2 separate regions of the Homo sapiens genome follow, and region 1 is linked to region 2. Evidence: fine-mapped expression QTL. A gene starts in region 2. The other region holds a variant in brackets. All regions are shown on one strand. Distances are from middle to middle. Region 1 overlaps TBC1D1 (TBC1 domain family member 1). Region 2 holds the start of TBC1D1 (TBC1 domain family member 1).

Region 1 (4,382 bases), 87 kb before region 2:
TTTTTCTTTCTTCTTTAAACAGATAATCTCTTTAAAACAAAACTCTCCCGTTTTGGCTTTATTCCTACATCATGAAATTGCCCACTCTACACATTCAATATTCACACAATACTAATGCATCGTGCAAGAAAAACACATTCATGCTTGGCCGGGGGCGGTGGCTCACACCTGTAATCCCAGCACTTTGGGAGGCCGAGGCAGGTGGATCACCTGAGGTCGGGACTTCAAGACCAGCCTGACCAACATGGAGAAACCCTGTCTCTATTTAAAAATACAAAATTAGCGGGGGTGGTGGCGCAAGCCTGTAATCCCAGCTACTCGGGAGGCTGAGGCAGGAGAATCACTTGAACCCAGGAGCCAGAGGTTGCAGTGAGCCAAGATTGTGCCATTGCACTCCAGCCTGGACAACAAGAGCGAAGCTCTGTCTCAAAACAAAAAAAAAGAAAAACACATTCGTGCTCAGGTATCCATGTGAATCAACCGACACCCACCCCTTCTCCTTCCCCACCAGGTGTTCAGCTGCAGTTGCAAAGGTCAAAATGAAAAAGGAAAAGGAAAGTCAGCTGCGTAACTGGATGTGCAGGTGTTTGTGTGAGGCCTGTGCTCATGTGCAGCTGTGTGTTTCTGAAGGGGCATTCTGAAGTCAAATATAACAACTTCAAGATTATTCACATTGTGTACATTATCTATGCCTTTTGTCTTTGTCTTTAGGATATTACCTAGTTTGTAATGTAAAGTGTGTTAATGACTTGCCTCTTCACCGTAAACCACATCAGTTCCATAGAACATCATTCTTACAATCTATAACTCCAAGAAATAAACTTCCAAAGACTAATTTCGTATTCTAAAATCTTTCACAGGATAACACGTTATCTATAAAAATCATTCAATTTCGGGATATAATTTGTAATGCATGCACCACCTACAGGAAATGAAATATAAAATAACCACATTTTAAAAATGTATGCTAAGAGGTATACATGAATTTGCTCCAAAAACATTTAATAGTTTTTCCGCTGTTGTCCTGTAATCGAAATAATAATTTTGAGGGCGGGTGTGGTGGCTCACATCTGTAACCCCAGCACTTTGGGAGGCCAAGGTGGGGGCATTACTTCAGCCCAGGAGTTCGAGACCTGCCGGGCCAATATGACAAAACCCCATCTCTACTGAAAATACAAAAATTAGCTGGGAGTGGTGGCGCACAGCTGTAATCCCAGCTACTGGGGAGGCTGAGACACAAGAATCGCTTGAACCTGGTAGGTGGGGGTTGCAGTGAACTGAGATCGCACCACTGCACTCCAGCCTAGGTGACAAGAGTAAGACTCTGTCTCAAAAATAATAATTTTGAAATAACAAGATTCAGAATCCAAATTAAGCTACCAGCCTACATTTCCTCTATATAAACTTTTCCAACGTACTGACACTCGGAGAAGGCTAACAATCGTCCTAAAAGTCTGTGATGGTTTTTGAAATGACTTTTTAATGACTCAAAACGTTTTTGAAAGTCATCTCATTTTACCACCAGCTATGTTTCAGGAAGTGATTCTAATGGAATGTTATTTACCTAGTAAGAAAATCTACCTAAAAACTTTTGCCCATCTAAAAACTAGTGTTATCTAGTTTCTGTGTCTCCAATTTTGTATCACTTAAATCACAGGCAAAGCCATACCTGCTCACAAACAGGTATTCATAAAAATGTAATTAAATAAGACTATAAAAGCATTGCATGATAACTCAAGACATAACCACCACCTAATTAAATTATTAATTGGTAAAGCCTCACAGTATGGCTAACGAGTTGTGAGCTTATTACTCAACCAGCCATACACAGGAAACAAGCCCTGGGAAGGCGCCGGCCAAGGGACTGAGTGCATGGGGTGACAGCAAGATGCCCTAACGACCAGCGAGCCTTTCAAGGTGGCGAGGGTCGCATCCTTTAAAACACATTCAGACACCTGGCACTGCAGGAGTGGATAAAAAGAATGCTATTGATGCTATTACTGTGTTCTCGAACTGGTGGGAACTCGGGAAATCTACACTTATGCCTTCCTGTTAGCAACAGTGCAACTGGCCTGGATTTGCACCACCCAGTTATCTCGAAGGCGCTGATGTTCTGAAAATAAAACTTTGTGGGAATGGAAAGTTAAAAACTTCTATTTAAAACTCAGACCTCAGAACATGCCCTTTGAAACCAGAGGGTTAAAAACGAAAGACAGACGCCCCTTGTGGGCACCAGCCTCTGGGCATCCTCGGCGCCCTGTCCAGGCGGCCCAGCGCAAGCCGACTTCTGCGAGGGAGACACACGAGGGCGACACCCGCGAGGGAGACACGCG[G/A]GGTCGACTTCCGCGAGGTCCCGCGCCGGGGAGGCACCGAGCGGCAGCTCCGCGGCGCGGGGAGCGACAGGGGCCGGAGGAGCCGCCTGCTGGGTTCGGGCTCCCGCAGGGGTCCCCGAGTACAGCCTCAGTCTCCCCAACTGTGAAATGGGCGCCGCTACCTCGCCCGTCCTCCCCACAGGGATCTGGGAGACTAATGAATGAGAAACGCGCGGCTAACGACCTGGTCGCGCCCGCCGCTCGCCCCCCGCCGCGCCTGGCCTCCAGCGGCCCGGCCCAGCCCCGGCCCGAAGGTTACAAATGTTCCAGCCCCGCGCCTGCCGCTCCGCTCCGGTAACGGGCGCCCGCCCGACGCCGCCTACCTTGGCCACCCAGCTGAACAATGGTGACATCGCGGGCCGGGCGGCGGCTCTTCGCCCGCCGGCTCCCGCTCACTCCCGCCGCCGGCCCGTGGGCCCGCGGGCGGCCGGGGGCGGGCTTGGGGAGCGGCGGGGCCGGGGCATCGCTCTCCCCGGCGGCGGCGGCGGCGGCGGCGGGCTCCACCCAGTTCGTCACTGCCCCGAGAGGTCGCGCCCGCGGGGCGGCCAGGCAGAGAAAGGGAAGTGGGAGGGGAGAGCGCGGGGAGGGGGTGGGCGGGGGGAGGAGGGGAGAGGAGGGGAGGGCGCGCAGCCGACCCCGCCCACCCCCGCGCTCCGCTGCTGGCGGGAAGTTGGGACATGCTGGGGTCGCCCCCTTCCGAGATGCCCAGGGCTGCGCAGGAAACCCTGGAGGCTGGGGACGCGCCTTTCCAGGCCTCTGGGGTCCGTTTCGCACAACTTTCAGAAATCTAAGAATTCCTCCCTCTCCGAGGTTCCACAAAAGCCCCAGAGTTGGAGCTAACACAAAGCCCGCCCAACTTTCCAGGGGTGACCCCCACCCCCAGGGCTTTTCTTCCTAAGCGCTTTAGATTGCTAGTAACAAAAGACCAGTGTTCCCCAGCCCCTAATACCTTTATATAATCAAAGGTGGTTTTCTTGGAGTCAGGAAACTCGGCCATTGAGACCAAAAGTGGGGCAGAGGAAAAAGAACCATTTAGCTCCTGCCTGCCAGGAGGCTTTAGCAACTTGAGAAATGTTGATTTCACCATAGTTTTCTTCTCTCCCAAGGCAAGATGATGAGACAAGGTGGTCAGTTTATGGCTACAAAGGTAAAGCTGAGTTTCAATCCCAGCCACTCCTGAGTTCCACGTTGAAAAAAAAAAAAGTCCAAAGGTTTAATCGCTGATGTGTTATGCATGTGTCAGGTGGAACCACTCACTGAGTTCCTCAGGCCAAATGGCCAACCCAGCCCAAGAATTCTGCTTCTCTTTTCCTTCTACTAATTGTGCATTATCTTCTTGAAGGACCATTGGGACATTTTAATGTTGTTCCCTAAATATCTGGCATCTGAGTTTAGTGAGGGTATTAGCTACCTATTGCTGTATAAAAAGTTACCCCAAAACTGAGAAGCTTAAAACCACAAACAACTTCTGTGGGTCAGAAATCCAGGAGCATCTTAGCTGGATGGCTCTGGCTGAAAGTCGCCCTAAAATTTCAGCCAAGCTGTTAACTGAGGCTGGAGTCATCTCAAGACTGGCCTGGGACTGAAGGATCCACTTCCATGCTCATTCACATAGGTGTTGCCCGTATTTAGTTCCTCGCAAGCTGCTGGACTCAGGGCCTCTGTTTCTTGCTGTTTCTTTCCATAGCACTGATCAGAAAATGGCAGTTTGTATCCCCCAGCACAAGTGATCCAAGAGAATGCACAAATCCAAAAACAGTGTTTTATGAATTAAGATGTGACATCCCAACACTTTTGCTCTATTACTGTTTGTGAAAAACCAAAGACATAAGTCTAGTCCACACTTAAGGGGAGGAGATAATATAAGGACATGAATATCAAAAGGAGAGGATCATGGGGGATTGTGGGCGGCAAGCCACCCAGCTGCCAAGGCAAGAGACCCAGGGCACGAGCTGTTCCAGTATAATAAAATATATAAAATAAGAATAGTTATACTAGATATAGATCTTA
Region 2 (4,382 bases):
TCTATATTTTTGTAGAGACAGGGTTTTGCCATGCTGGCCAGGCTGGTCTCGAACTCCTGACCTCAAGTGATCCACCCGCCTTGGACTCCCAAAGTGCTGGGATTACAGGCATGAGCCACCATGCCTGGCCATGGACTCAGTCATTTTAATGAGCAGATTTTACTTCTCAAGTTTAATGACCAAGAGATGAAAACTGCTGAGAAATATATAAAATATTGAAACTAACGTGGTCATTAAACTTGAGAAGGGCAGCACGGTAGACTGGAAAAGGGCAAAACAAATGATCCTGAGGCACCCACACATATACAGGAAGTCCCCAAATGGGCCGTGATACATTTTCAGTCCTCTGGGAATCTGAAAAGAGCAAAAACTGGGGACCTACAGAGAAATGCTGTGGAGAGAGTAGGAAGGACTTCAGGGAGCTGCCATTCTGTCAGATCAAATTAAAAGCATGTTCAAAGACAGAATCCTCTTGAGCCCCTTGCTCTCCTCCCTACCATCTACTCTAGAAAGCTGGTGGCCAACAGAGCAGGCAGCTGTGGTGCCTGCTCCAGGCACCAAGACAACTGAAGATGCTGCTGTGAACACAGAAGAGGTAACAGCCATGCTGCTTGATTCAGGCTCCCCACTGCTTGCCAGGGTTACATCCTAGAAGATCCTAGAAGATCTGGACCACAAAAAAGCCACCCGCCCACATCTGGCTCTGCATAGGGGTACATCTCATTGTCATTGCAGCCTTCCTGGTCAAAGCTGTCTTCTAGGGAAGTGGGGGACAGGGATTATCACCAGCTGGATAATGAGGAAGAAGGGGCAAGCTCTGTTGCTTCAGAGTTGCACGTTTCCTCCTAATACCCACTAGTGTTTTGACAAACTGTGCCTTATGGGACACCAGGTCAACACTGCATGACTGCCACCCAACCAGAAATGCTGTCGTGGTGAAAAGGGGAAGCCCCAGCACTCTCAGTGGGGTAGATAACAATAGACTATGACAAGGAGACGCATTTGCAAAATTTTCCTTTGAAAACGTAATGTAATAATTTATAACTACACTAGTGATTTTTTTTCCTATTCTCCTGGTTTGCAAATGGCTGGACAAATCCACAGGAAAGAAATTATTTTAATTATCACCTGATGATTTTATTTCCTGCTTTGAACCACTTAGTCCCTTCCAGGTCTCCTTGCACTCAATAGTGTTAGAATGCTCTACTTGTGTTCACTTCAGAAAATGTCCCCTAAACTCTTTTTTTTTAAGAGATGGGATCTCACTTTGTCACCCAGGCTCCAGTGAGGTGGCACAGTCATAGCTCACTATGGCCTCGAACTCCTGGGCTCAAGTGATCCTCCTGCCTCAGCCTCCCAAGTAGCTGGGACTACAGGTGGGTGCCACCACCCCTAGCTCATTGAAAAAGTTTAGAAGTTTGAACTTGTACAGATAGCTGAGTTTCTTGGGTGTGACCTATTTAAACCAGGTCATTTTTAAATGCTCTTTCAAAGTCTGATTTTATTAATAAATGAAATCATCCCATCATAAGGGAAACAATGAGAAATCTATGAAGGGAAAACATATCCATTAATATGAGGCACCCTGAAAATTAAACTGTTTGGTGGAAGGAACAACCATCACTTTCAATTTCTTTTTAAAGCAACTTCCAGAGAATAAGCTATGTTAAGTAAAATCAAAACAGGAAAAGCCACATCTAGGTGGATTTCAAACGAAATGATACCTCTCTGAAAAAAAAGCAAAAACAAAACCTTAATGCCTGGTGAAGTTTGAGGGGGGTCTCATAATCACAGAGCCATCAGGAAGCGGCTAGAAACAATGAAGCAGGGTTTCAAAATGACTGGTACAGGATGTACCCATAGAAAGAAATGTTGCGCGCACTGGTGGAGCTGCCAAAGTTACTACTGCAAAGTACCCTGAACTTTTAAAGCGTGGCTTGGGGTCACTCTGACCACACTCTTTCCAATCTGGTCGCCTTGCAAACACGCTAGGATAATTGGCGGGAGGGGGGAGGGGAGAGATGCGCGGACCAGTGAGCTGGCGGGGGTTGGGGGAGAAGCCGGCGGAGCTCTCGGGTCGCTAGCAACATTAAGGTTTCGCTTTCGTCCAAGGGCGGCGGGGGTGGGGGGGTAAGGGGGGCAACGAGATGGCAATGAACTTCCTCCCCCGAGAGACCCTGGCCTCGCGTCCGTGGGCGGCCAGATGCCTTCCCCTCCGCGGCCAGGCGGGGCAGGGGCGTGCTGCGGGAGGGGGCGGCCGCGACGCCCCGAGAGGAGCCAGCAGGGTGGCCAGGACGAAGCCCCAGGAAGCGCCTTACCTGTGCCGCGGCGCGCTCAGAGCCCGGGGCCGGGCCGGGACGCGCAGGTGCTTGGGGGCATCCTGGGGACGGCCTGGGCGGGCGGGGAGTCCATCGCACCCGGCTGGCTGCGCTCTTCCCGCCGCGGGGGGACGGGGAGGGGGCTCCCCTCGGCTCGGCGCCCGCCTCTTCTCCACCCAGCTGAGGACACAGCAGGTCCCGCGGCGGCGGCAGCAACAGGCACCGGCGGACGGTGGCGGCACCAGGAGCAGCAGCCGAAGAGGAGGAGGAGGAGGAGGAGGAAGAAGAGGAGGAGAAGGAGGAGGTGTCTGCGCGCGGCTCTGGTTTCCTCCTCCCAGCCTGGGCGAGCGCGCTGGAGGCGAGGGGAAGACAGGAGCCGGGATCTCCCCACTCGGTCCCCGGGGAGCTGGGAGGGGGACTCGGTGTCCTCCTCCTCCCCACTGCGCCGTGTGACTGTGCCTGGGCAGCACGGCCCGGACGGGCGAGTCACACGCGAGCAACAGCTGCTGCACTGCGGGTCCGCCGCGGCCTCCCTCCCCTCCTTGCCACCCCCCGCCCCCAAGCCCGCGGGCCATCCTCAGCCAGTGTCTGTGGGGGGAATAGGGGGGAAGTACTCGGGCCGCCGCCCCATCCAGACCCCTGCGCAGGATCTGGGCACAGCGTTTCCCTGGGGAGCCGGGGGCGCGGGGCCCCGCGCGTGATGCAGGCCCTCGTGGCGGGATGTACAGTCGCACACCCTGTCCTTGGCGGCCTATTTATAGCAGGTGGCACTGCCCGCCGCTTGCTCGGCCTGAGTGGCTCTCAGCAGGTGGCACTGCCTGCCCGCTCTCCGCGCTCCCGAAGGCGCCTCGCCTCATCTGCACCCTCCTCTTCTCCCTCCGAAACAGACGTGGTGGAAACTGCACACAACATGGGGGGCGGGGGCCGGGGGCGACCAAGCCACCTTGCTCTCCCCCGCCTTACCCCTTCTCCCCGTCCTTGGAGGATGGCAAGAGGTGAACTGAGGCACGGATGCCCTATGGGGCGCTGGCATGCGAGGCAGGAAAATCAGGGACTCTGGGAAACAACGAAGGCGAAGTGCCCTCCCGGGATTAAACACCAGGAAACTCCATTTCTAACCAATTGCGGGAGTGACGCAGAGCCTGGATTAGGCGCTTTTTCCTGCCCCGCGAGCCCGGCACACGCGCAGGAACACACACCACACGCACACGCACACCCCAGTGTGCATGCCCCGATCAGGTCTGGGGACATTCCCAGCGGTGATGTAGAGTGCAAGGAAAGACGCGGAGATGTGAAAAGCGGGACAGAGCTCGCTCCCTAAGACTAGGGGATGGCAGTGTGCAAAAAACAGGCGAAGCTCCCAGATCCCTATCCCACCAGGCACAGAGGCGCAACGTCACTCGCAGGGTGGGGAGAGGGATCTGAGAAAAGTAAGAAGCATCACATCCTCTCCAGAGAAGAGTCCGCAGGGAGGGGAGAGCCGGGTGCTCGGAGGAGGCAGTTCCAGACCCCCAGGTGGCATCTTTCTGGATTTTTTTACTTAATGTAGCTGGGGGTGGACTTTAGGGAAGTGGCTGAGCGTTTGAGCTGTACGGTTGGACTTGAATCCAAATCCCAGCAGGTGTGGTTTAGGCAAGGTGCTGGACCTCTGGTCTTCATTGTCTTACCTGCTAAATGGGACCAATACACACCTTACAGGATCTTTGTGAGGACAAAGCAGGAAAGTGTAAGTAAAGTGGCCAGTGCAGTGACACAGACGTACATGGTCCTCAACTAAAAGCAGCAGCTATTATCAATATTACTGTGGCCCAGGAGGCAAATAGAGGGCCAGGTTTCCTCATCGTACCAAGAGCAGTGTCTTCCTTGAAGCCCACTGAGCTTCTTGTAGGCTTTTAGATTAGGGCTGTCTTATGGCATTCCCTGATTTCCCTGGATGCTTACATCCAGGGGAGGTATTTTTAAGTGGACCCAAGAGTTTTATTCACAGCTTGACTTAAAACTCTCACAATAGTGGTAGCTATTCTTTACGGAGGAGTTAGTCGATTTGGGGTATTGTGCTAGATA

What was found.
Region 1: its variant is fine-mapped to the expression of TBC1D1 in monocytes after Pam3CSK4 (Quach 2016, PIP 0.95).

What each region holds. Positions count from the first base shown.
Region 1 is chr4:37,975,843-37,980,224 of GRCh38, reverse strand. The region is part of intron 2 of TBC1D1 (TBC1 domain family member 1); the gene reads right to left. Among named protein-coding and RNA genes, the nearest start is that of PTTG2, 18 kb to the right of the region's middle. RefSeq lists silencers at 2,287-2,586, 2,607-2,656, 2,777-2,896, 2,967-3,036. The variant G/A (reference allele first, on the strand shown) is at 2,334.
Region 2 is chr4:37,889,285-37,893,666 of GRCh38, reverse strand. TBC1D1 (TBC1 domain family member 1) reads right to left here and starts at 2,583. Exons shown (of 22, transcript NM_001396959.1): 1 at 2,319-2,583. RefSeq lists enhancers at 436-715, 1,146-1,275 and silencers at 976-1,025, 2,055-2,554, 2,875-3,064.